4 linked regions of the Homo sapiens genome follow. The protein of the gene in region 4 purifies or fractionates together with the protein of the main gene of each other region. This does not show direct contact. Each region holds a gene or a part of one and is shown on either strand. Other genes may lie near its edges.

Region 1 (3,975 bases), on a different chromosome or scaffold from region 4:
ACTGCATATTGAATTTATAATTTCAAAAATACATTTTTGGTAAGAGTTAAAACAATCCGAATTCCTTAAATTTATGGACTGTGAAGTATCACACGTAAGGTCACACAAATGGAAACCAAATCTCCTCATACCCCGTCTCTCCACTACACGATAATGCCAACTGTTAGGAACTACAGTAATGTTTCAAAGTAAGTATCTACTGGCATAAAGTTAAAACTCTATGGGGGTCCCAAACAGTTATAAAAATGCATAAGGCATGTCTTCTTTGTGTAGCTTGCATTTAAAAAATGCTTCAGTTGGTCAAGATATTACTCCAACTCTCGCTTCATTTGCTCTGTAGTGATAATGGGTTACAGTATTTACTGACATCAGTCCAATGAAGGAACCAATGAGAATACATCCTAAGTAGTAAGTTCCAATTTACTGGCAAACAGGCAATATTAAGCACATAAGATAATCTCATTTGTGCCCAATATTATATGATTTTAAGGGTAGGAGGAGGAAGGGTTAGAAACTATTAAAAAGGGTGTGAAAATACAACTTATGATCACAAATATTTTTATTAAGCCCAAGACATAATAGCGCATTACAGGAAGAACCCAACTACATTTCATTAGAGATAAAAGTATGGATATAACAACAACAACAATAACAACAAAAAAAGAAACAGCCTATCATTGAAAATACATTAATACAGAAAACATGAGATATCCATTATGAGATTTTAAAAGGTAAAATTCCTAACAATTTGAATAACTGATTTGGGTATAGTGATGTACAAGGAGGTAGTATTAACACATGAAGACTCCTTTTAGCCCTGTAATGGTAAAATATATTCAGTCTGTTCAATATACCATCAAGACTGGGGTTAAGCCGTGAGTTCTCAGTCTTTAATATCTAAATAATCACTGTAAGAGTTTTATTTGCCTTCCAAATCCAGAGGGTCGTACTACCTAGCATCTTAGCAAGTTAGGATGCTTTGAAAAGCATGATTTCCAAAAATTAACAAATCTTTGATTTATAAATAAGTTTATTTATAATGATATTTACATAATAAAAACAAAACACATGGAACTCACAAGTTATACAAAGAAACTGATGTATAATAAAAACAGCAATATAGACTGACAGGCAGAAATTTAAAGAAAGATTTAATAAAGAGTTAAATATCAAATAGACAACTTCACTTCTAAATTTCACTTTGTCACTCACACTGAATTGGAATTGAACAATGGCTCTCTCTTCAGGCGGTCCTGTACTGGAAATTCTGGAAACTGGTAAAATATATTTTGATAAGAGTTTCAAGTTAATGACCTATTTCCATGCAGTACCTAATGCTGCCTTTAGATGAAGTCACATTCAGTCTGCTTTGAAATGAAATAGCTTTAAGTAATCTGTTCTGCCAGGCTAGAAAAATGTCACCAACATTTTGCTGATGCATGGAGATGTGGCAGTAATAAACTACTATTTAGAGAGGAAGAGAATTGGAGCAGAAGTGACTGGGCAACAGTTTCAAGAGAAGCAAAAGCCGGGAGAGGGAAATCAATGAAAACATGCACAAGATTAGGCAGAGTAATATGCACAATTAGTGCAGTTGGAAAATGAACAGAAGGAATTAATCCATGGAGCAAGGTAGGGGCTTCTTTAGTTACTATTCACTGGAAAACAACTTAGTGCCTAGCCAAATAAATTTGTTTCAGCAGAAGTACTTGAGAGGACCTGGGGGATGTTAGTATATGGAATGCCACCTTTAAATTCAGGTTGAGTTCTTGCTGACATTGGTGAACATCTGCTTCAAATAGCAATAAAATGAAAGCTATATAATCTATACAGCTGCATTCTTTAACATAATAAAAAAGAACTTCAAATGAGACAAGCAAAAACAAGACATAAGCATTGTCAAATAAGGCACATGTAAAAATCTACACACATTATCCAGTGAAAGACAATATATATATATTTGGAGGTAGAAATAATTACAAAAATACTGACATTTCTAAAGCATTAGCATATTTGTTACAAACAATCACCAACTAATCCCCATTCAGAAAACTGCTTTGTAAAATGATTATTCAACATCTTCAGAACTACATATTTGTGGCTTCTTTTTTGAAATTTCACGTGTGAGTATTTGGAGAATTCAGTTAGTGGCAAAAAGTTGTCCATACTATGAGAAATGTAATATGGAAATTATAAAAAGTTATAAATGTTCATAAACCCCATGGTCATCATAATGTAAATGTCCTTGAGTGCACCAAGTTGATATTTCCTCATCAATTGAGAGTTCACAGTTCTTATTTCACAGGCCCATTGATGTTTTTAGTAATGTGGCTATATCTGCTGGCATACTCCCTTCATCACCTGTAGGTCAGAAAGTAGCATTAAAAGCTTTATAAAAATATTTTACTTAAAAAAAAATTGTCTCAATTATTTTTTTTCTTTGGTGAATTCTTACTCATCTTTCAAGGGCTAGTTTGCTTCAGTGTCACTCACCCCTGTTAAAAACTTTCCTAAGCTCTACTTAGATTAGGGCTATTTCCTCTATGTTCTTGTTCATATTGCCAACATAGCAATCTAAGGTTATTTTTCCAATTTTATAAAGCTATATAAAAATACACGGTAATACACTGGATCGTATCTAATTCATGGTACTTAACTTCTCACATTTGCTAAATAAAAAACATTTATGTAAGAAATGGAGTAGGGAAAACAAGGATAACAAACCCAAACCTAAACCAACGAAAACCAATCTATATTCTTATTTTTCATCTAAAGATATAATCACTGACTCAGACCCACACTGTATACATATAAACAACATTCTGAGCACAGCATACCAGCTGATGATTAAATTAGCCACTTTAAATTACCTGGTTTATCCAATGTTTGCCCTATATTTTAATTAAATGAGGCCCCAGTATAAGCACTTACAGGAATTATTTGAGATTTTCTAAATCTCTTTGTGTCACAGTGGCAGATAATCTAGCCATCCCTGATTAATTCAATTTAGCACTGAGAATATTTTGAGATGAGTTGATTAATTTACTAGTTAGTGACAACAGCACAGGTGGCAATTCAAATATTTGCTGATCTGTGATAGATCTGTAACTATGAATAATTTTATAAATTAGATGTGGCTGAAATGTAGCAAAACTAACCACTTCTCTCCTCCTCCCCTCTCTCACAAATATACACCTCAGCTATAATCTAAAATTATGAGTACTTTCATCCACTCTTCTTTTCTCTGTTAAAAAAACAAAAAACAAAACAAAACACATATATCCACAGGAACACAAAATAGTACATCAACTCTTAGGGATGTCAGTTCACTGACATCCTTGCTTCCAAGCTCATCCACAGACTTGAAAATAGCCCATAAAATCCAAATTGACACTTCATAAATTACTATATAAACTGATACTATGTTAGGAAGAATGCAGGGAGAAGAGAAAAGAAGGAAAAGAATAAGGAGATTCTTTTAAACTTGAAGATACTAAAGACAGAATACAATAAAATGCTGTGTGTGAACTTTGGACCCTAGTGTTTTAAGGAAAGCTATAAAAGACATTAAGGGGACAAATGAGAGAAATCTGGATATGAATAATATATGATAATGTCTGAAAATTACTGTTTATTTTCTTAGATGCTACAATGGTATTGTACCAACTTTGAGGAATATGCTGTGATATTGAAAATAAATTGCCATGTTTACAATTGACTTTATTATGGATCAATGGGAAAAAAGAAGTAGAAAAAACAAACACTGCAAATGTCACAACTGTTAAATCGCTGTATTTTTCATTCATACTATACTTTCAACAATTAAAAAAATATATATATATTTTAATAGAGATGGAGTCTTGCTATGTTGCCCAGGCTGGTTTTGAACTCCTGGGCTCAAACGATCCTCCCGCCTGTCTCCCCAAGTGCTGGCATTATAAGCATGAACCACACGCCCAGCCACTGCTTTCATTT
Region 2 (7,403 bases), on a different chromosome or scaffold from region 4:
CTTCAACAAGTTTTATCAAGCTCCAACCACTCATGTTCATTATCATGCTCCATCATAGCCACGGATAAGCAAAGAACTACAGAAAAAAAAACAACTTTTAATAGTGTGGTATAAACTACACATGTAATTGTTGAAGTAAAAAAAATGTTTTTTGAGACAAAGTTTCGCTCTTGTTGCCCAGGCTGGAGTGCAATGGCACAATCTCGGCTCACTGCAACCTCCGCCTCCGGGTTCAAGCAATTCTCCTGGTCAGCCTCCCCAGTAGCTGGGATTACAAGCATGTGCCACCACGCTCAGCTAATTTTGTATTTTGAGTAGAGACGGGGTTTCTCCATGTTAGTCAGGCTGGTCTTGAACTCCCAACCTCAGGTGATCCGCCAACCTTGGCCTCGCAAAGTGTTGGGATTACAGGCGTGAGCCACTGCGCCTGGCCGTAAATTTTTTTAAAAAGGAAGCATCACTGTGAGATTATTGTTTAAGAGTTAAACTTTTAAATTGAGCCTCAAAGGCAATATTAAGAAACTAAGTATTTTTAGAGTCCACTGGCTTACACACAAATAGAAAATCCTTACTTGTTCATTAGAACAGGTTTCTTAGAGGGTGCACATGACCAGATTTTGAGAAGCTGGTTGAACTAACTGTATTTGCTTAAAGGTAATAAAAGCTAAATTCTATTTCAATTCTCCACATTTCTAACACTCCATAAATGCACTGCATTTTTCAGTGCTTCTAACCAAAGTTCTAGGGGTTTCCCAGATAATCTTAAATAAGACCTTTCATTATGATCAAGATGCCACCTCTTTTCAAAAGATAAACCAACTTTACTTTCTTTAGATGTTTTGTTTAAAATTTTCCAAGTTTAAGATATTTTAAAATCAGCCAGGCGCAGTGGCTCACGCCTGTAATCCCAGCACTTTGGGAGGCCGAGGCAGGCGGATCACAAGGTCAGGAGCTCAAGACCAGCCTGACCAACATGGTGAAACCCCGTCTCTACCAAAAATACAAAAATCAGCCGGGCATGGTGTGGGGAACCTACATTTCCAGCTACTTGGGAGGCTGAGGCAGGAGAATCGCTTGAACCTGGGAGGCAGAGTTTGCAGTGAGCCGAGATCATGCCATTGCCCTCCAGCTTGGGCAACAAGAGCAAAACTCTGTCTCAAGAAAAAAAAAAGATATTTAAAATCACCAACAAAATTAAGTACTTGTTCCTCATATTACATTGCAAAACGATTAACTTTCCAAGTTGAGCGTAACAATCATAATCACACGACTTGTATGTGAGATATAAAACACAGTAAGTATTGAGGATTTAAGTTTATCATATCGTAAACCGCCTGCGCCAGAAATAAAAGTATCTCAAAATACACACAAATAATCTTAAAATTCTAGGATAATTTAGGGTGACACAAATACTGGAACCTCTAGTTGGAATATGTGCAAAAGCCTATTCCACCTATCAGGAAGTAAATACGGAGTTGAAATTAAGTTAGAACCCTTCCACTTTTATTATTGTCTTTGGTCATTAAAGTGACAGTCAAACACAAATACCATGGTACATTTTATAAATCAACTGTTTTAGCGAATTGTATTACAAAATTAGATAGTCTGAAAGTCTGTGGAAATATCACAAACAGAATACAAATCCAAAACCCACATAAACTGTTCATAAGTGAGCATTTTTTCAACAATCAACTTTTTGTAAATTGATCCCTTCATCTAATTCACCTCTGCCAACTAGGCCTTTACGCCCAGAAGTAGTTGATTTGCAATATATCTTCTATAAGCTGAAATACCATCTTGCAAGGGTCGAGAATAAAATAAAAAGGCCAGAAAAGATCAACGTACCCTTTTTAATAATAAAAAGTAAAGTACCAGGTAAAAGGCCTTTCCTTCCAAGAGAGATAGGCCATAACTATCCCGGGATGGTATGTGTAGTACAGTGCTCTGCTTAACAGAATGTACCATTAAAGCGGTGAATGCTACACTAAGAAACATCATTAACAAATTTATTTTAAAAATAGGTATGAAGGTTCCAATCATCACTATCACAGTTCGTTTTCAGCTATTTAAGGTCTGGCTGAAGTGTTTAAGACACCCACAAACCCGCAAGGGAGGGAAAAACCACCACCCTGCTCCCGGGAGTTTAATGAAAATTAGCAGGTAAGAGAGGCCTCGGCAGCACGCTGGAAATCAAAGAGGGCGGCCGGAGGATTTGGACTGCGGAGGAAAGCCTCGTCCTCCGACCCCACCTCCCCGCACCTTCCCGGCAGGGCGAAGGAGGCGAAGGCGGCGAGGGGTTCATTACTGCCTTCATTAATTGACACCTGTAATGAGGAAACTTTCCGAGAGCCCAGAGCGCCCGGGCCAGGCCGAGCCGGAGCTCCGCGGCGGCCGCCTCTCGGGCGCCCAGGTAACCCGGCCGGGCTGGGCCCGAGGCGCCGCGGCGGCCGCGCCACCGCGCACCTTCCCGGGGCGCTAGGCCCGCACGCCGCCCGGCCCGGCCGTCGCCTCCCGCAGGCCGCGGCAGCCCGGGGAGGCCAGAGAGCTGCGCGAGGACCCCAAACCGTGCACCCCGACAGGCCGCTACCGCGGCTACTTACTTTCATTTAACACCTCCACCAGGTCTGCGCAGTTCTCGCACATCGTTCGGCCGCCGCCCCCCCCCTCCCCCGCTTCGGATCACACTGACTGATCCCGACCGGCGGGGGGGAGGGGAGAGAGGCGGAGGAGGGGGCCGGCCGGCCGGCGGGGCGGGGAGGCGACTAGGGCGGGCGGCGGCGGGGACGGGGCGGGGAGCAAGAGAATGGGGGAGGGGGCCGGCGGTCCCCGCAGCGGGAGGGGGAGAGGAGGGGAGCGAGGGGAGGTGCGCAGGCCGGAGGGGCGCCGAGGCGCCGGCGGCGGGGAAGGGGGGGAAGGACGGGGGGAGGGGAGAGGGGGGGAGGGGGCGGGTGGGGAGAGAAGCAGCAGAGTCACTTCACCGACCAGACGCCGCGGCCACCGCCGACGCCGCCGCCATTTTAACAGAGCGCTCGGGCTGCGCTCGGCTCTTTCCGCCCGGGCTTAGGAGCGGACGAGAGGCGCCTCGCGCTCTCATTCCTCCGCCTCCCTCCCTTTCTCGCCTCTCCTCCGCCCCCCACCTCTCCCTCCGCACACACGCCGCACGCTCCACACCCCGCCGTGGCCGGCTCGCCGCCCTCCCTTTCCTCTTCCGTCCGGCCTCCCCGCCCTCGGTCCACCCCCTCCGCGCGCTCGCCCACCCCGCCCAGCCCGGATCTCTGTCAGCGGCCGGAAGGGAAACGCGAAGCCAGCGCGGCCGCGGGGGGAGTCCGGGTGAGTAGGAGAAGATGGCGGAGGCAACGGACGGGTCGCGGTTGCGTGGCGTCGCCCACCACGACCCACTCCACGGGCTCTGAGGCCCGGGGAGCGCCAGGTCACTCGCTCCGTCCTGTCCCCCGCCCCTGGGCTTCGCCATTTTTCCCCAGGGCCTGGGTCGGGGAGTTGGTGCGGGTTTCTTTGGTGTCCCCGGCCTCTTCCGCGCTTAGGCTTTTGGGGTACGGGAAGCAAGGAGTCAACTTGGGTGCCGGGCCGGGTCTACGCCGTAGCCCTCTTTCGGGCGCAAGGGCCACTCCCCCCGGGGTCTGAGAGTGAATCAGCCCAGGGCCCGGCTTAACTGCATCGGTGATTATCGCTACCCTGCAGTTCCTTGAAGGTCCTCCGTCCTGGAGCAGTAAGATCCTTGACGTAACTAGAAATGGCAGGGTAAGGAGTGTTTGCCTGACATCGTCTCGTTTTTACGGAAGAGGGCCCCTCACGATGTGCCCATCAGCCCCACCTGAAATAGCAAGAAATCTTCTTCAGCAGAGAGCGAATAACAAGGATATTAAGATAAAGAACAGGTGAAGGGGGCAGTCAGCTGAAGCTTGTAAGGGAATTTTCCTCACGCCGGCACTTACCCCTTGCTTGCTAATTTTTGTGTTCAACGTGTTTACATAGACATGTGACTGCAAAGTCCGAAAGATCGTGTACAGAATCTCTGAACGGTAACCAGAGTGTCTGTCAAGGCTCTGTAGTCATTCTCTCGATAGCTTTTGTGGAGGTTATGGCACGCCCATCTCTCCATGCCAGAACCACCTGGTTCCAAATGCTTTGCCTTTCTGCTGCTTGAAGTTGATACTATAAACAGTCTGCCCAACCCGTTTTGTTTCCCACTAGCAGGTGATCCTTAGGATTGTAGTTCTATTCTACCATCATCTTCCCTTCTTCCTTGTCTTTCTCACAGAATTGGGTTTTTGCAGACTTACTTTGGATCCTGAGGCAGACATTCGTTGTCCACTCAACATACATTCCCACGTATCCCTTTTTTCCCTGCCAACACAACCCCAATTATTTTTATTTGAATTTTTTTTTTTTGAGACAAAGTCTCACTCTGTCGCCAAGGTTAGAGTGCAGTGGTGCGATCACAGTTCACTACAGCCTCCACTTTATGGGCTCAAGGGATCCTCCCACTTCCCTAGTAGCTGGGGCTACAGGCGCTCTCCACCACACGTAACTAATTGTTTTTTATTTTTAGTAGGGACAGGGTCTTGCTATGTTACCCAGGCTGGTCTCAAACTCCTGGCCTCAACTGATCCTCCGGCCCAAAATGTTAGGATTACAGGTATGAGCCAACGTGCTGGTCTCACGTTTTTTCAGGTAGCAGTTGAAACCAACCATCATGGTGATCTGGCTTTTCTAGGGCTGGCCATACATAATTGAGTTCCTCCTGATAAAAGGTAAGCAACAATCCTGAGAAACATAGTGGGAGCCCTGTGTCTACAAAAATTTAAAAGGTGGCTGGGCGCGTTGGCTCACTCCTGAAATCCCGCACTTAGGGAGGCTGAGGTGAGCAAATCACCTGAGGTCGGGAGCTCTAGACCGGCCTGACCAACATGGACAAAGCTCATCTCTGCTAAAAATACAAAATTAGGCATGGTGGTGCATGCCTGTAATCCCAGCTACTCAGGAGGCTGAGGCAGGAGAATCGCTTGAACCCGGGAGGCAGGGGTTGCGGTGAGCCGAGATCGCGCCATTGCACTCCAGCCTGGGATAAGAGTGAAACTCCGTCTCATAAAAAAAAAAAAAAAAAAAGGCCAGGCATGGTGGTTCATGCCTGTAATCCCAGCGCTTTGGGAGGCCGAGGCGAGAAGATCACTAAATCAGGAGATTGAGACCATCCTGGCTAACACGGTGAAACCCCGTCTCTACTAAAAATACAAAAAATTAGCCAGGCATGGTGGTGGGCGCCTGTAGTCCCAGCTACTTGGGAGGCTGAGGCAGGAGAATGGCATGAACCCAGGGAGCAAAGCTTGCAGTGAGCTGAGATCGCGCCACTGCACTCCAGCCTGGGCGACACAGCAAGACTCCGTCTCAAAAAAAAAAAAAAAAAATTACCTGGTCGTGGTGGCTCACGACTATAATCATAGTACTTTGAGAGTCCAAGGCAGATGGATTGCTTGAGCCTGGGAGTTCTACATCAACCTGGGCAACATGGCAAAAGTCCATCTCCAGTACATAAGAAAATTAGTGGAATGTGGTGGTGCACACCTGTAATCCCAGCTACTGGGGAGGCTGAGGTGGGAGGATCACTAGAGCCCAGGAGATTGAGACTGCAGTGAGCTGTGGTCATACCACTGCAGTCTAGCCTGGGTGACAGAGTGAGACCCTCTCTGGAAAAAAAAAGAAATGTAAGCAGAAATCTGCAGGATGGGTTCTTTGGGAAGAATTCCCAAAAGAATTCCTAATACGATGAGGGACAAATTCAGCTAACATACCATTTAACCCTTTCTGCCTGAAACATGGTCTTGATGCACAAAGTAATACCCATCTTGTAATTTTTTTAACAATGAAAACTTTTACCCCATTTGCGATTTCATTGTTTAAAAAATTTGATTAAACAGGCCGGGCACAGTGGCTCACGCCTGTAATCCCAACACTTTGGGAGGCTGAGGCAGGTGGATCACCTGAGGTCAGAGTTCAAGACCAGCCTTACCTACATGCTGAAACCCCATCTCTTCTAAAAATATAAAAAATGAGCCGGGTGTGGTGGCGGGCACTTTGTAATCCCAGCTACTCGGGAGGCTGAGGCTGGAGAATTGCTTGAACCCGGGGGTGGAGGTTGCAGTGAGCCGAGATTCTGCCATTGCACTCCAGCCTGGGCAACAAGAGCAAAAAAAATTCCATCTCGAAAAAAAATGATAAAACAGAATCATAAAGTGTGGATCCCTGATGCATCTTTGAACAACAGTCTATGCTCAGACTGCTTATGTGAGAAAAATAAAATGTATTTTTCTTGGCTGGGCATGGTGGCCTACACCTGTATTCCCAGAACTTTGAGAGGCTAAGGAGGGCAGATCACTTGAGGACAGGAGTTAGAGACCGGCCTGGCCAACGTAATGAAACCCATCTCTACTAAAAATACAAAAATTAGGCTGGGCGCAATGGCTCACGCCTGTACTCCCAGCACTTTGGGAGGGGGAGGTGGGCAGAACACAAGGTCAGGAGTTCAAGACCAGCCTGGCCAACGTAGTGAAGCCTCGTCTCTACTAAAAATACAAAAATTAGCCGGGTTTGATGGCGCATGCCTATAGTCCCAACTACTTGGGAGGCTGAGGCAAGAGAATTGCTTGAACCCAGGAGGCAGAAGTTGCAGTGAGCCAAGATCGCACCAGTGCACTCCAGCCTCGGCGACAGAGCAAGACTCCGTCTCAAAAAAAAAAAAAAGCCGGTTGTGGTGGAGGGCACCTGTAATCCCAGCCACTCAGAAGGCTGAGGCAGGAGAATCCCTTGAACCCGGGAGGCAGAGGTTGCAGTGAGCTGCAGTTGCCACTGCACTCCAGCCTGGATGACAGAGCAAGACTCCTCAAAAAAGTTCTTTTTCTTTAAGCCATTCTTCAGATTTTCGTTACTTGTAACCAAACACATTTCTAACTACTGATTACAGATACTCTTTTTTTTTTTTTTTTTTTTTTTTGAGTCTCGCTTTTTTTGCCCAGGCTGGAGTGCAGTGGAGTGATCTCCGCTCACTGCCAGCTCCGCCTCCCGGGTTCAGGCCATTCTCCTGCCTCAGCCTCCTGAGTAGCTGGGACTACAGGTGCCACCACCACACCTGTCTACTTTTTTGTATTTTTAGTAGAGATGGGGTTTCTCCATGTTGGTCAGGCTGGTCTCGAACTCCCACCCTCAGGTGATCCGCCCGCCTCGGCCTCCTAAAGTGCTGTGATTACAGGCGTGAGCCACCGCGCCCGGCCAAGTGTGTATAACTGTTGATCAACATTTTGAAGACCAGTTATGACAGTTAAATTATTTGCCACAACTCAAATGAACAGCAGAGCACTTTATCACAAACTAACATTCACCCTGGAATG
Region 3 (7,000 bases), on a different chromosome or scaffold from region 4:
CTGCCAAGCTCAATGGCCCAGAGACTGAAATTCTTCTAACTGGGAATTGATTACAAAACTCATTATTCATACCCAAAAATGTTTTTCTCCTTCAAAGCTTAGGTCACCTAACGTGAACACTCATGGAAACAGGTTTTAAAAATAGTTCTACTTCATTCTTGAGTAAACAAAACACCCTATAACTGGCACCTGGTAGGTAATCAATGAATATCTGATTAGATAAAAACCAAGAATTATTTTTAAGCAACACCTACTTCCTGAATCTGCTTCTCCAAAGCAGAAACTTGAAGCCAAGAACACCAGCGCATTCTTTTAGAACCCCGACACCGAGCAGTTCTGGGCGCAACACACACCCATTAAGTGTCAGCCTCCAATACACCCTGATGGCGAAAACACCTAGAAGCAAGCAAACAATAAACAAAATGCCTACCCTGTTCCAAAAAAAGAACATACTACTGTGCCTTACTGTGTTCATAACAAAATGTAGAAGATGGGGAGAAGCCTTATTGGATCTAAAGGGTCACCTTCACCATTATAGTTAAATACAGCCAAATATCACAAGTACATTCCAACTATAACAAGCAGCATTACAAAGGATGCTATATAACTCATTAAGTTTCTGCCATCTGGCAAGGAGCCCATGGAATGCCAGACTTGGATTTCATCAATAGATGGTTACATACATTTATCACAATAAAAATGTTGAATAAGCAAGCACTCTCCACAAGCTCCCCTCATGTTCCTGCCATCCTTTAGATTTAAGAATATATACAAGTTACCGCAAAAGCTTAAAATGAGTTTTAGCAATACTAGATTAGGCTAATCTGAACAGAAGTATTGATATAGCATATGCAATTAAAACAGTATTAGCAGCCCCATAACTAATAACAGCAGACATTCCCATAGCACTCAGAGAGTGCAGTAAATATGCACTTTACATTGAAGGATACTACAAATGCAGGTGCAATTAAGGATTCTTCCCTCCAACAAAAGGAATACATGCCACTTGCATTGCCCCTAGAAAGAAATGAAAAAAGCAGGCCAGGTGCGGTGGCTCACACCTGTAATCCCAGCAATTTGGGAGGCCAAGGCGGGCAGATTATCTGAGGTCGGGAGTTCGAGACCAGCCTGACCAACATGGAGAAACCCCATCTCTACTAGAAATACAAAATTAGCTGGGTGTGGTAGTGCATGCCTGTAATCCCAGCTACTTGGGAGGCTGAGGCAGGAGAATCGCTTGAACCCGGGAGGCAGAGGTTGCAGTGAGCTGAGATTGTGCCACTGCACTCCAGCCTGGGCAATAAGAGCAAAACTCCATCTCAACAAAACAAAACAGAAGGAAATGAGAAAAGCTTGGTTAGCTAGGTCATATCTATTCCTTAGCTTCAATGTCCTTCGCCCTTTCCCATCTTAGACATCTAAAAAAAAACAAAACAAAACAAAAAAAAAAAAAACAAACTACACAAACTCCCAAATAGTCGCACAAACATCACAGGAGTGAAATCTAAGAGAAGGCTGGACATGGCTAAGTTGTGGTGGCCATCTTCCTCCTCCCCTGGCCAATCCAAGCACCTCTCAGTTGGTAACTCATTAGAGAGAAGCCAGGATCTTGTTTGTTTCCATCTAGACAAAGGACTGTTTCTGGTAAATCTCATGTTTTAACAGGATTCCAATTCAACTGGGTGGGTGGCATGGCATAGCATTTCATGACAAAGATGCTTTTTCCTGGTTCATTTTCTTTCTTCCAATGAGCAGATGAAACCAACTCAGGTGGTGTTTCCAGGTTTAACAAGCTCCTGGGAGACCTACCACAAATGTTTTGGTTCTTCAAACCCACTCGTTTCTTGCAGAAGGCTCTACAGAAGGCTGTTCCACTAGCTGGCAGGTTTTGACCAGAGCTCTCATCTCCTCTCTCCTGCCCTCCTCCATGCTGGGGAAGGACGCAGGAACCACACACTGAGGACAAAAGGGTCCAGGAGTTGCAGCTTCTCTTGTTCTTTCTCACTTAAGTCCTTCCAGGGAGGCTGTGTTCTATTTGATGTGATGTGCCAGAATGTCAAAGCCTTAGTACCAAATGATTTGGGAACTGGCCATCACCTGGGGAACCTCTCTGCCACTCACAGCAGCGTTTTACCATTGTGGAGCCCACGAAATCAGCCTTCTGGAAGCAGCTAATCTTTGCCCATCACTGTGCCCCTGCAGTTCCCAATGCATAGCCCGTAAATGTTCAGGAAATGTTCCATGGAGGAGTCAAGAACCGTTTCAAGCTTGACCTGCTAGAATACAGACATGGCATCAAGTGGTCTCACCTATCCCAGGAAACCTGATGTTCCAGGACCTCAGTAAACAAAAAGGCAAAATCAGAGTTCCAATGTGAAGCTTGCCTTTCAGCCCTGCATGGGGGGAAAGGCTGGAGGGGTGGGCTGCTAGCTCCTGTCTTAACCATTGGGAGAATTATTCTCCGTAAGGTACAAAATAAATATCAAAAGGCTTATCTGTATCTTTTCCAAAAGCAACACTCAGACCCACATGAAGTCAACCCCATCATGCCTGCCCAATCAGGGGCAGTTACAGTTTCTAGTTTTTGCCCTTGGCTACTTGGCCTGGGCCTCCTGCAGGAGAGGGGTTCCGAAGGTGGGGGGCCTTTCTGACCAGGCGGGCAGTTCGTGCTGCAGTGGAGTCCTCCGGGGGTAGAAAGTGTGGCTGACGTCATAGTTCAGGAGGCAGCTCAGAGACGCCATGTAGATGTCAGCGAAGCGCGACAGGCGCCTTAGGAAGTAGGTTGGGTTCTGGTCTGTGCGGAACAGGCTTCCAAACTGGGCATTGAAGAAACTCTTGGTCATTTCTCTGAAGAGGCAATAAAAAAGCAAAGCAACAGAGAATGATTCAAAAATCCTTGTTTTTAAACTACTGAAATCAAAATCACTTCTTTTTTTAAAAAAAAAAAATAGGACTCATTTGAGAAACATGTTAGCCTAGAGCAGCCCCAAATATTAATTAAGAAAACAGCCTAGAGCCAGGTGTGGTGGCTCACATCTGTAATCCCAGCACTTGGGGAGGCCAAGGCAGGCAGATCACTTGAGGCCAGGAGTTCGAGACCAGCCTGGCCAACATGGTGAAACCCCGTCTCTATTAAAAATACAAAAATTGGCCAGGCGTGGTGGCGCACACCTGTAATCCCAGCTACACAGGAGGCTGAGGCACAAGAATCATTTGAACCAGGGAGGCAGAGGGTGCAGTAAGCAGAGATCATGCCACTGCACTCCAGCCTGGGCAACAGAGCGAAACTCCGTCTCACAAAAACAAAAACAAACAAACAAAAAAAACAGTCTGGCCTGGGCATGGCAGGTGGATCACTTGCGCCCTGGCCCACCAGCATGGGCAACATAGTGAGACCTTGTCTCTACAAAAATGCAAAAAATTTGACCAGGCATGGTGGCATATGTCTGTAGTTCCAGCTACTCAGGAGGCTGAAGTCGGAGAATCACTTGAGCCTGGGTGGTTGAGGCTGCAGTGAGCTGTGACTGTGCCACTGCACTCCAGCCTGGGTGACAGAATGAGACCCTATCTCAAAAAAAGAAAAGAAAAGAAAAGAAAACAGCCTGCCTATCCATCCATCAAAACGACTCTGGTCACATTTCCCCCTTAACTGTCTCAAGGCTCCAGATTCTTTTGCAAGCTTCTCTAAATACACACGCCCCATCTCCCAAACCTAAACACAGGATGCAACAGCTGCTCCCGATGGTACACAGAGGAATACGGAATGCTCTCAGGAGGCTCCACTTCCCTTACCGAAAGGATCAAGACCCCGTTTTACAAGGTTATTGTGAGAACTGAGTAAGGTAAGCAAAATAAAAGCATGTTGTAAACTCTCAAGTGCTCAGATGGAGGAATTAAAGATTGTTTTATGTGATGTAAATCTCCCCCAACCATTACATACTTCAATGCCTCCCAGCCTCCTCGGAAGTGAGGCTGTTCACCCCATCCAAGCCCCATAACCCCCTGCAGTCATCCTTACGGGCATGTATATCTATATCAACATCCCTATCATACAAACACAGGATGTGCACTCTCTCTGATGGCTGGGACCCTACACACAGAGTATTCCATTAAAATGAATGAATTCTATTTGACTGCTAATAAGTCATTTACAAACACAGCAAAAAATATAATCATTTACACAGCTGTGTGATAAAAGCCACTAGTTAGTTGGTAGCAGTTAGAATAAGACTCAGACAGCCAACACTCTGAGAGGGAGGAGGACAAACTAAATGCAATACAGCTTTGGCTTCTGCAGAATCTGAGGAATGGACTCACTGCCCCCTCTCCATGCCCCATCCACCCACCCACGCACACCACCACATGAACCCTGGAGTCAGGCTGCCCACTGCTGAGAGGCCAGAATCCCACAGTAACCACTGTTTCCAAAGCTCAGAGACGGCTATACCCAGCGGCTGAAGAAAGCCATGCACAAAGTCAGAAAAGTTCATGCAAGTGGTATAAAGCATCCTTCTAGGGAAGCATGATTGTCAGTATGGGTTCCCTTAAGACAGACACCCACCAAACTTTTCTTATGGCAGGCAGGCTTTCTTTATCAGTTAACATCCTGCTTACTGATTGCACATTCTTGAAATAGCTGTGGTTACAAATAAGCACCAGGGTCGTAGGAGCCCTAAGAATTCATTGAGGGTTCAGAGCCCAAATCCAGTGCTGCCCAGTAGCCACATGGTGCTGCCAGCATTATTAACAACTGGCCCACCAGCTGCCCAGATGGGAAGGTCAGGCAGGCAGGAAGGAGGAATGAGATGGGAAGGCTCCGTTCTCCAAAGGCCTTCGATGGCAAGGGCGGAGGAATGACAGGGGTGATGGCTGGCCTCAAGGAAATTTGTCACATGTTACCAACAGCAGGTAGCTGATTCTGGATCCTGGGGGAGGCAGACATACCTGGGAGCTAAAATAGGATGTTTCAACATTATGCCTCAGGCTGGCCCTGGGGAACACATGTGGGCTGAGCACAGCCAGAACAGGGTGGTGGACGCGCACATTCAATACAGGCCTCTCTTACCGCATCTCCTTCCTTTCCTTTTTCCACTCCTGCAAAACCAGCTGTGACTCAGCATCTCTGTGAACCTGTAGGACACAAGTCAATTATTACAACTGTTTTGATTTCAAATAAGCTCATTACGTAATGAGAATTTTTTAATGAGCAGTTTTTCTAGGAGAAATTTTATTCCCTTACATCTCAGAGGCTGGCACCTGAATGAAATAATACATTTTTCAGACCTTCCAGTTGAAACCCTGCCTTCTTCATGAATAAAAAATTGTTTTAAATGTCCAACATTAGAAATGTGGTTTAACAAATTAAGATGTATTATGAAGTTATTAACCTATCAGTAAAGATTACATATAAACATAATGCATGTGTATCCATGTATGTATAACACATGTATGTGATATATCCATTATGCACATGATACATCCATTACACATATATTATATACATGTGTACAAACTATAATGTACAAATACTTAGTACATGCTACCTATTATACATATTATATACATGTGTACAAACGTTATAGTTAAGTAGAAATGGCGTATATACCCACCAATTGCAAGCATGTCAAAGTATGTGCTTACATTTGGAAATTAACATAAAAATTTGTTTTAATTTGTACAGGGGTAGTAGAATTATAAATAAACCTTTTAATTTAATATTATATTAAGTGTTTAATTTAAAAAAACAATTATTTTTTTGCAAAAGGCAAGAAGGCAAATCACCTCAATGAGAAGGAAGAGCAGAGCATTTTCTGGTGGGCCAAAATATGGGCGAAAGGCAAAAAGAAAATGCCAATTGCCCATGATCTAACAAATGGAATCTCACAAGTCCCTCTCCAAGGTTCTTATGGCTAAACAGAAACACTGAGGCCAGAATCCAAGGTGCACATGATCGCAGGGAACAGGCCAGCTCCCTGCAATTCATGACCACAGGGGTAACCTTAGAACCTGGAGGAAAACACCAAGCGGGCAAACCATCTGCTTTTGACATGGGAGCCAAGAACCTTCTGTTTATCACATCTGCCCAGTTCAACAGCTTGACTCTGAACCCTGAGGCTGTTGAAGGGACATGTAAAGGAGAAAGACCCCAGGAATCAGAGGCCAGGGACGCATGCCCAGAGGGGGACCCTGAGCTCTGCGCCTTCACTCGGCCACCCTTCGGGCCTTACCTCCCACGAAGCACCCAGCAGCTGGCTGGGGCGCCCTGCTGGCTGCCCTGCCATGAACCTTTCCCACCATTTATCATCTCTCTCATAGGAACAGCCCTCTCGCCTGCATCCTTCCCATCAGCCATTAAACATGCTCAAGTCTCTCCCATTGAAAAAAGAAGATTTCTCCTGGTGCCCAACCCCCTTTCTCCAGCTCTGTCCCCCTACAAGGCCAAACTCCATAAAACAAGAGCCTCTGGTTCTGAAATCCACTTTAAAATATTTCAAAGACAGTGTGTGTTCATTAGCTATCATTAATCTTTCAAGTGAAACCATGCACTCTAGAGTGGGTACTTAACATTGGAAAAGACTAACCGAAGCCCCACAGAGAACTGATCCTACAGGCACTTCAGCCATCTCCATCTCCAGTGGTTGTTCATGGGCATAATCAGCTCTTTAGGGGCAAAACAGATTGGCTACATATCTTTGCCCTTGTTTGAGAAAGATATTACAATCTAGCCAGTGCAATAGCCTACATCAGTCCAGCCACCGGCCCATTTTTCTATCAGCCTATAAGCTTACAAATGGGTTTTTCTTTTTCAATGGTTGGGGGAAAAAAAACTCAAAAGAAGAATAATTTCATGACAGGCTGGGCGTGGTAGCTCACGCCTATAATCCCAGCATTTTGGGAGGCCAAGGCAGGTGGATCACTTGAGGCCAGGAGTTCGAGACCAGCCCGGCCAACATGGTGAAACCCAGTCTCTTCAAAAATACAAAAATTAGCTGGGCATGCT
Region 4 (7,174 bases):
ATAAGAGAAAACATTTGCAAATCACATATCTGATAAGGGAATATCTAGAACACACAGATAACCCTTAAAGCTCAATAAAAAATTATATTTAATACTTCTAATTATAATTAATAAAACCTAATTTAAAAATAGGCAAAGGACTTGAATAAGCAATATCATTTGAAGATATACAAATAGCCAATCAGCACATGAATAGATGCTCAATATCAGTAATCTGCAAATCACAACCACAGTGAGATATCACCTCACACCAATTTGGATGACTTATCAAAAAAATCAGAAAATAACAAGTGATGGTGAGGGTGTGAAGAAACTGGAACCTTTGTCAGCTGCTTGTGGGAATGTAAAATGGTGCAGCTGCTATGAAAAACAATTTTAGTGGTTCCTTAAAAATTAAAAATAATTACCTTATGATCCAGAAATTCTACTTTTGGGCCAATACCCAAAAGAATTGAAAGCAAGGACACAAATACGTATCTGTACACCCATGTTCACAGTAATATTATTCACAACAGCCAGAAGGTGAAAACAACCTGTGTCCACTGATGAAGGAATGGATAAACAAACTGTAATACATACAAAAGAATATTATTCAGCCTTAAAAAGAAGCAATTCTGATATATATTACAACATGGATGAATCTTGAAGATATTATGCTAAGTGAAGTAAGCCAGATAGAAAAGAACAAATATTGTGTGATCCCACTCATATGAGGTACTTACAGTAGACAAATTCATACAGACCAAAAGTAAAATGGTGGTTGCCAGGGGATGGGAAGAGTTATTATTTAATGAGTACAAAGTTTCAGTTTTATAAGATGAAAAAGTACTATAGAAGGATGGTGGTGATGGTTGCACAATAATGCGAATGTACTAAATGCGCTGAACTATATACTTGAAAATGATTAAAATGGTAAATTTTGTTATATATATTTTACAATTAAAAACAAAGAAAAACACCTTGAAGGAGGTTTCTATAAGAACAGTCTGTGTAATGTCTCTGCGGCACAATTTGTTAGAGTGTTCTGCTGTTAATGGAAAGGTTGGTGGTTGAAGAACAGTCTGTGTAAATAGTGGCAATGTCAGTGACTACATTTCATGTCACAGTCTAGCACAAATAAATGTTAGGTACACGAAGGGAGGGAAAACTGGGTGCCATAGATCTAGAAAGTCACCAGACAGGGAGAAGGCAAGTCAGGTGGGATCTATTAGGCTTACTGTAAGACTACTGATCCCAAATCCTTACCCAAGATGCTTTTGGGCTGGGACGATAAGGGAAGTAGGCTTGCACTCAGTCCACAACATCTACCCAGGGAACTGGGGAAGGAGGCAGTGCCTATAGTCCAGATATGAGGACAGAGCTGCTCCTGAGGAAAAGGAGAAACAGAGAGCCTAGTCCAGGGCACAAGGGTGAGTATGAGGGCCTTACCCAGGGAGGACGTAAGTGCAAAGTTCTCCAGCATCACATCGAAGTACAGGTGTTTCTGAGCCTCATCAAGGAGATCCCATTCCTCCCAGGAGAAGTACACGGCCACATCTTCAAAGGTCACACTTCCCTAGCATAATAGGGATTGATGAAACCATGAACAGTCTCAATTTGGAAGACTCAAAATCCATGTCCCCATACATTCTCCTCCCAAGATCCCCAAGTCAGAAGAGACACCAGACCTTGGTGTCATTGATCCCTGCTGTCTCTTCACATTCCCATTAGTCACTGTGTTCATTCTGTTTTCCACTCTGTATCCTGTCAACACTTGGGTTAGATAAATCTCCCTCCTCTGATCCCAAACTCCAACTTCCTCACAATAGATGCCAAACTTCACAGAAATAAAGGAAACCTGCAGTTCCCTGAACCAGCTCAGCCTCACCTCCAAGGAGTTCCAAAAGCTGGTACCTACCTGTTTCTATCATAAATTTTCACCCATCTTTCCATTGGCTGCTCCAAATGGAAACATTGGCCTGGACTCAGGGCCCTTAGCTCAGGGATTCTCCAGGGTTCCCAAACCAAACGCTGAGAGAATGGTAGGTGAGTCCCATGACACCACAAATCTAAAGAAAATATCTGTCTGGGGAGGGTGGAGGGACATTCCAGACCAGTGAGGGGCTGAGATACCTCCACTTACCTGTGTAAGTTTGAAAAGCACCTCTGTAGCTATGGGAACCTGTGGAAAGACGCAGGCCTCAGAGGAATGTGATCATGGCAGTGCTCCATGGGCACAGGCCTTCCCTGTACCCTTGCCCCGGCCCAGAGCCACGTAACTTTGGGTCGACTGTCTAACCTGTGCGCCTCGGTCCTTAGTGCTGCCTCTCACCAGTTGTGTGGCCTTGGAAAAATATTCAACCTCCCTCTGCCTCAACGTCCTCATCCATCTCTAAAGTCTTTTCTTCCACTGAACAGCCTGCAGAGGATTTTTCAAATTTAACTCAGATGGTGTCTCTCGTTTGCGCAAGCTCTCTATGGCTCCCACGGCCCTAAGAATAAAGGTAGATCTCTCTCAAACTTTGTTCCCTGCAGTAACAATGTGGAGCCCAGGTTCCTGAATGCCCCCTTCTCGGTTGCCCGTCCAAGCCCTGCACGCGCCGGTCCTGTCCCTTGTCCCCCTGCCCACCACATCGGATGTCAGAAATAGGGGCCCCACCCACGAGCCTCAGTGTCCCCGACCCTGTGCTACAGAGACGTGAGCTGGTGCCTCTCACTTGGGACTTAAGAATCTCGGCCGGGGGAGGCCCGGAGATCGCAGCGCTCACCGAAGCCGGGTCCCTCAGTGCGGTCGCCATCCGAGTCTGTGGGCGGAGCTGGACCGGGAGCTGCGGGCGACCCGGGGGGAACCCGAGCATCGCTATCCCCAGGCCGGCCTCGCGGGCGGCTCTGCCCCCGACCCTCAGACCTGACTCTCGCGCCTTCACGGTCCGTCACTTCGATCCCGATGCAGCGTACCAAAGCGGCTGACAGACAGAACGGACCTCCGGGAGGGCAGCCAAAATGACCGCTGCGAAGACGCCACAAGTCCCGCCCTGGGGGGGGCGGGGGTAGACCCACACGGAAATGCCCCTGTCTTGGATTTTCATTGGATCAAAGTACTGCCGCTCGACGCAAGGCTTTCTGGGTAATGTAGTCTCCCCCAGGCTGCGACGGAGGGCGCCTTGTGTGCAGACAGCTGGGAGCGCTAGGAAGCTGCGTCTGCTGCCTTCCAGGGCGACTGAGGGGCTTCGGTGTTTGAGGTCTTAAGTAGGTTGACACTTGAACAACACAGGTTTGAGCTGTGCGGGTCCATTTACACGTAGGCGTTTTTTTTCCCCAATAAACGTTACTTCGAGTGTGCTCCTTTTCCTGCCTCTTCCAGCTCCCCGACCTCTTGCCCCAGAGACAGCAAGACCTCATTCTCTTGCCCAGCATGAAGAACACAAGGATGAAGACCTTTATGATGATCCACTTCCACTTAATGATTAGTAAATGTATTTTCCCTTCCGTATTCTTTTATTTTCCTTTTTTTAATTGGGTGTAATGTCAACGAGCCTCTTACAATTTTCCTGATACCCTTTCTCTGGTCTGTTTTAGTACAAGTATAGTTCTTATACTAAAATATATATAATGCATATATCATACAAAATGCATATATCATATATATTATGCATATATCATGCATATATCATACAAAATGTGTTAATCGACTGGGAGTTTATGTAATTCATAAGGCTTCCGGGCAACTTCATAAGGCTTCCGGGCAACAGTTGGCTATTAGTAGTTAAGACCTAGGGGAGTCAAAAGTAATACAAGCATTTTCAATTCCGCAGGGGTCGGTATCCCTGACCCCTGCGTCGTTTAAGGGTCAGCTGTATATCAGTCTCTAGTGTAGAGGTTCACTTCAGTATTTAGACATCATTTCAGATTCCATGCAGCCCACCCCAGCAGATCTCCACTGGTAGTGGGAAGCGAAAAAACGTTATCTTATTGCTCTTCAAATGCATGCAGCCTGAAGTGTTAAAGTCACTTTTTGTAGGTTTTGTCAGGGACAAAAGACACCAGACAGGGCTACAATGGGAAGATAGTGGAGGGATAGTGGGCAGCCCTGAAGCCAACGGACAAGGGAAGTTCCCTGCTTCTGGTGCCCCCAGAAAACGCTCTCCTGCCTGCAAAGTCAGTTTTGTTCATAAAACATGAAGCTTTAATACATGAATGTTCATTTTCCTTGTATAATCAAAACATTTAATTTTTTTTTGAGACAGGGTCTCACTCTGTTGTCCAGGCTGGAGTACAGTGGAACAATCATAGCTCATTGCAGCCTCCACTTCCTGGGCTCAAGTGATCCTCCCACCTCAGCCTCTTGAGTAGCTGGCACTACAAGCACACCACCACACCCGGCTAGTTAAAAAAAAAATTATTGTAGGAATGGAGTCTCCCTATAGGGCCCAGGCTAGTCTCAAACTCCTAGGGCCATGCAATCTTCTTGCCTCAGCCTCCCAAACTGCTGAGATTACAAGCATGAGTCACCATGCCCAGACAAAAGTTTTTAATGCATAAAATATCAAATTATTATCATTATTTTAAACAGGGCCTCACTCCGTCGCCCAGAAAGTTTATATTATTTTAAGGTACATATATGCACATTGTTAAATGTACACATATACATTTTATATATATTAGATAGATCAAATTTTACGTTTCACAATAAAAATGATCCTTTAGGACAAATTAATACCAGTAAAATAAAATAAAATTAAAAGTTGTGAAATGATTTTATCAAATATATAATGTATTTGTTTACACATTTACTACAAAAATTTATAAGTGGAATGACTACTATTGTACATCTGGTTAGATCTCACAATGGGCTTGTCATTGTTTTTAGGAAAAAGGTTAGAGTTCTTGGCTGGGCCTATATTACAGAACCAACCATTACATATTGCTTCACCTCCTACCATGTATCTCCTCTATATCCTACACATGCTGAATTTCCTCAGATCCCTGAAAGCTGTGTGTGCATTCACATGCAGGGATCTTTCCAGGTTACCTTTTTCCTACCTGAGACTGCTGAATCCTATTGTGCTTTAAAAATTCATACTTTCAGGTAATCAACTGAGAAACTAGTGAAAAATGACATAACTGGCTGGGCACAGTGGCTCACACCTGTAATCCCAGCAGGTGTGATTGCTGCTCCCACCTTGGGAGGCCGAGGTGGGCGAATCACCTAAGGTCAGGAGTTCAAGACCAGCCTGGCCAACATGGTGAAACCCCGTCTCCATTAAAAATTCCAAAATTAGTCGGGCGTGGTGGTGGCACCTGTAATCCCAGTTACTCGGGAGGCCGAGGCAGGAGAATCAGAATCACTTGAACCTGGGAAGTGAAGGTTGCAGTGAGTCGAGATCGTACCACTGCACTCCAGCCTGGGTGACAGAGCAAGACTCCAAAAAAAAAAAAAAAAAAAGGACACAACTCTTTATGTCCAAATTCAATGTTTCCATCCATTGCACGTACTCAAAACTTCCCAGTACTCCTCATGAGGTAATGAAGCATAGGTTAAGTAAGTTTTGTATAATTGTGTAAATTTTTCAGGGCCGGGCTTGGTGGCTCATGCCTGTAATCCCAGCACTTTGGGAGGCTGAGGCAGGCAGATCACAAGGTCAAGAGATCAAGACCATCCTGGCCAACATGGTGAAACCCTGTCTCTACTAAAAAATACAAAAATTACCTGGGCGTGGTGGCGCATGCCTGTAGTCCCAGCTACTTGGGAGGCTGAGGCAGGAGAATCGCTTGAACCCAGGAGGTGGAGGTTGCAGTAAGCCGAGATCATGCCACGACACTCCAGCCTAGTGACAGTGTGAGACTCCGTCTCAAAAAAAAAAAAAAGAAAAAAAAGAAACATCTTAATTAAAAAACGAAATGGGCAAAGACTTTAGGTTTAGATACCTCACCAGAGAAGATACACAGATGGCAAATAAGTGTATGAAAAGATAATCCCCATCATATGTCATCAGGGAAGTAAAAATTAAAACAGCACTGAGATACCACTACACATCTATTAGAATGAACAACCTCTGTAACACTGACAACTGCAAATGGTTGAGAAAATGTACAGCAACAGGAGCTCTCATTGCTGACGGGAATGCAAAGTTGTACAGCCACTTTGAAATGGAGTTTGGTGGTTTCTTACAAAACTAAACACACTTTTACCATACAATACGGTAACCATATTTTTCAGAATTTATCCATATGAGTGGAAAATTTATGTCCACACAAAAACCTGTACATGTGTGTGTATAGCAGTTTTATCCAAAATTGGCATACTTTGGAAGCAACAAAAATGTCCCTCAGTAAGTGAATGGATTAGAAACTGTAGTATATCGCCAGGCGTGGTGGCTCACGTCTGTAATCCCAGCACTTTGGGAGGCCGAGGTGGGCGGATCATGAGGTCAGGAGATCGAGACCATCCTGGCTAACACGGTGAAACCCCCGTCTCTACTAAAAATACAAAAAAAAAAAAAAAAAAAAAAAATTAGCTGGGCATGGTGGCAGGCACCTGTAGTCCCAGCTGTTCGGGAGGCTGAGGCAGGAGAGTGGCGTGAACCCGGGAGGCGGAGGTTGCAGTGAGCCGAGATCACGCCACTGCACTCCAGCCTGGGCGACAGAGCGAGACTCCGTCTCAAAAAAAAAAAGAAACAAAGAAAGAAAAGAAACTGTAGTATATCTAGACAATGGAACATTACTCAATGCTGAAGGTAAATGAATCTTCAAGACGTGAAAAAACATGGAGGTACCTTGTATGCATACCACTAAATGAAAGAGGCCAATCTGAAAAGGCAATATACTGTATGATTCCAATTAATGACATTTGAGAAAAGGTAAAAGTATGAAAGAGTAAAAAGATCAGTGGTTGCTGGGGGTTTAGAAGGGTAGGAGGGATGAATTTGTGGAGCACAGAGGATTACTATTTTAGATGACACTCTAATAGTGGACACGTGTCATTGTACCTTTGTCCAAACACATAGAATGTACAACACTAAGAGTGAACCCTAAAGTAAAGTAGGGACTTTGGATGATAATGATGTGTCAGTGTAGGTTTATAATTGCTACAAATGTGCCACTGCGGTTGGGGTGAGGGGCGCTATGCTTATGTAGGTGCAGGGAGTATATGGAATATCTCTTTACCTTCCCCTTAATTTTACTGCAAACCTAA

What was found.
Region 1: the proteins of ZNF211 (region 4) and SMARCAD1 purify together in Homo sapiens (co-immunoprecipitation; 3 studies listed by BioGRID and IntAct, with this or other methods). This does not show direct contact.
Region 2: the proteins of ZNF211 (region 4) and USP34 purify together in Homo sapiens (co-immunoprecipitation; 2 studies listed by BioGRID and IntAct, with this or other methods). This does not show direct contact.
Region 3: the proteins of ZNF211 (region 4) and NT5DC3 purify together in Homo sapiens (affinity purification with mass spectrometry; 2 studies listed by BioGRID and IntAct, with this or other methods). This does not show direct contact.

What each region holds. Positions count from the first base shown.
Region 1 is NC_000004.12:94,287,859-94,291,833, reverse strand, and holds the end of SMARCAD1 (SWI/SNF-related matrix-associated actin-dependent regulator of chromatin subfamily A containing DEAD/H box 1), read right to left. Parts: intron 2,362-3,975; coding exon 2,300-2,361; 3' UTR 542-2,299; downstream 1-541. UniProt on the Homo sapiens protein: DNA helicase that possesses intrinsic ATP-dependent nucleosome-remodeling activity and is both required for DNA repair and heterochromatin organization.
Region 2 is NC_000002.12:61,468,050-61,475,452, forward strand, and holds the start of USP34 (ubiquitin carboxyl-terminal hydrolase 34), read right to left. Parts: upstream 3,039-7,403; 5' UTR 2,644-3,038; coding exon 2,601-2,643; intron 1-2,600. UniProt on the Homo sapiens protein: Ubiquitin hydrolase that can remove conjugated ubiquitin from AXIN1 and AXIN2, thereby acting as a regulator of Wnt signaling pathway.
Region 3 is NC_000012.12:103,775,235-103,782,234, forward strand, and holds part of NT5DC3 (5'-nucleotidase domain-containing protein 3), read right to left. Parts: intron 5,131-7,000; coding exon 5,066-5,130; intron 2,848-5,065; coding exon 2,595-2,847; 3' UTR 1-2,594.
Region 4 is NC_000019.10:57,629,010-57,636,183, reverse strand, and holds the start of ZNF211 (zinc finger protein 211), read right to left. Parts: upstream 3,017-7,174; 5' UTR 2,838-3,016; coding exon 2,748-2,837; intron 2,472-2,747; exon of another isoform or gene 2,279-2,471; intron 2,162-2,278; coding exon 2,123-2,161; intron 1,556-2,122; coding exon 1,429-1,555; intron 1,367-1,428; coding exon of another isoform or gene 1,246-1,366; intron 1-1,245.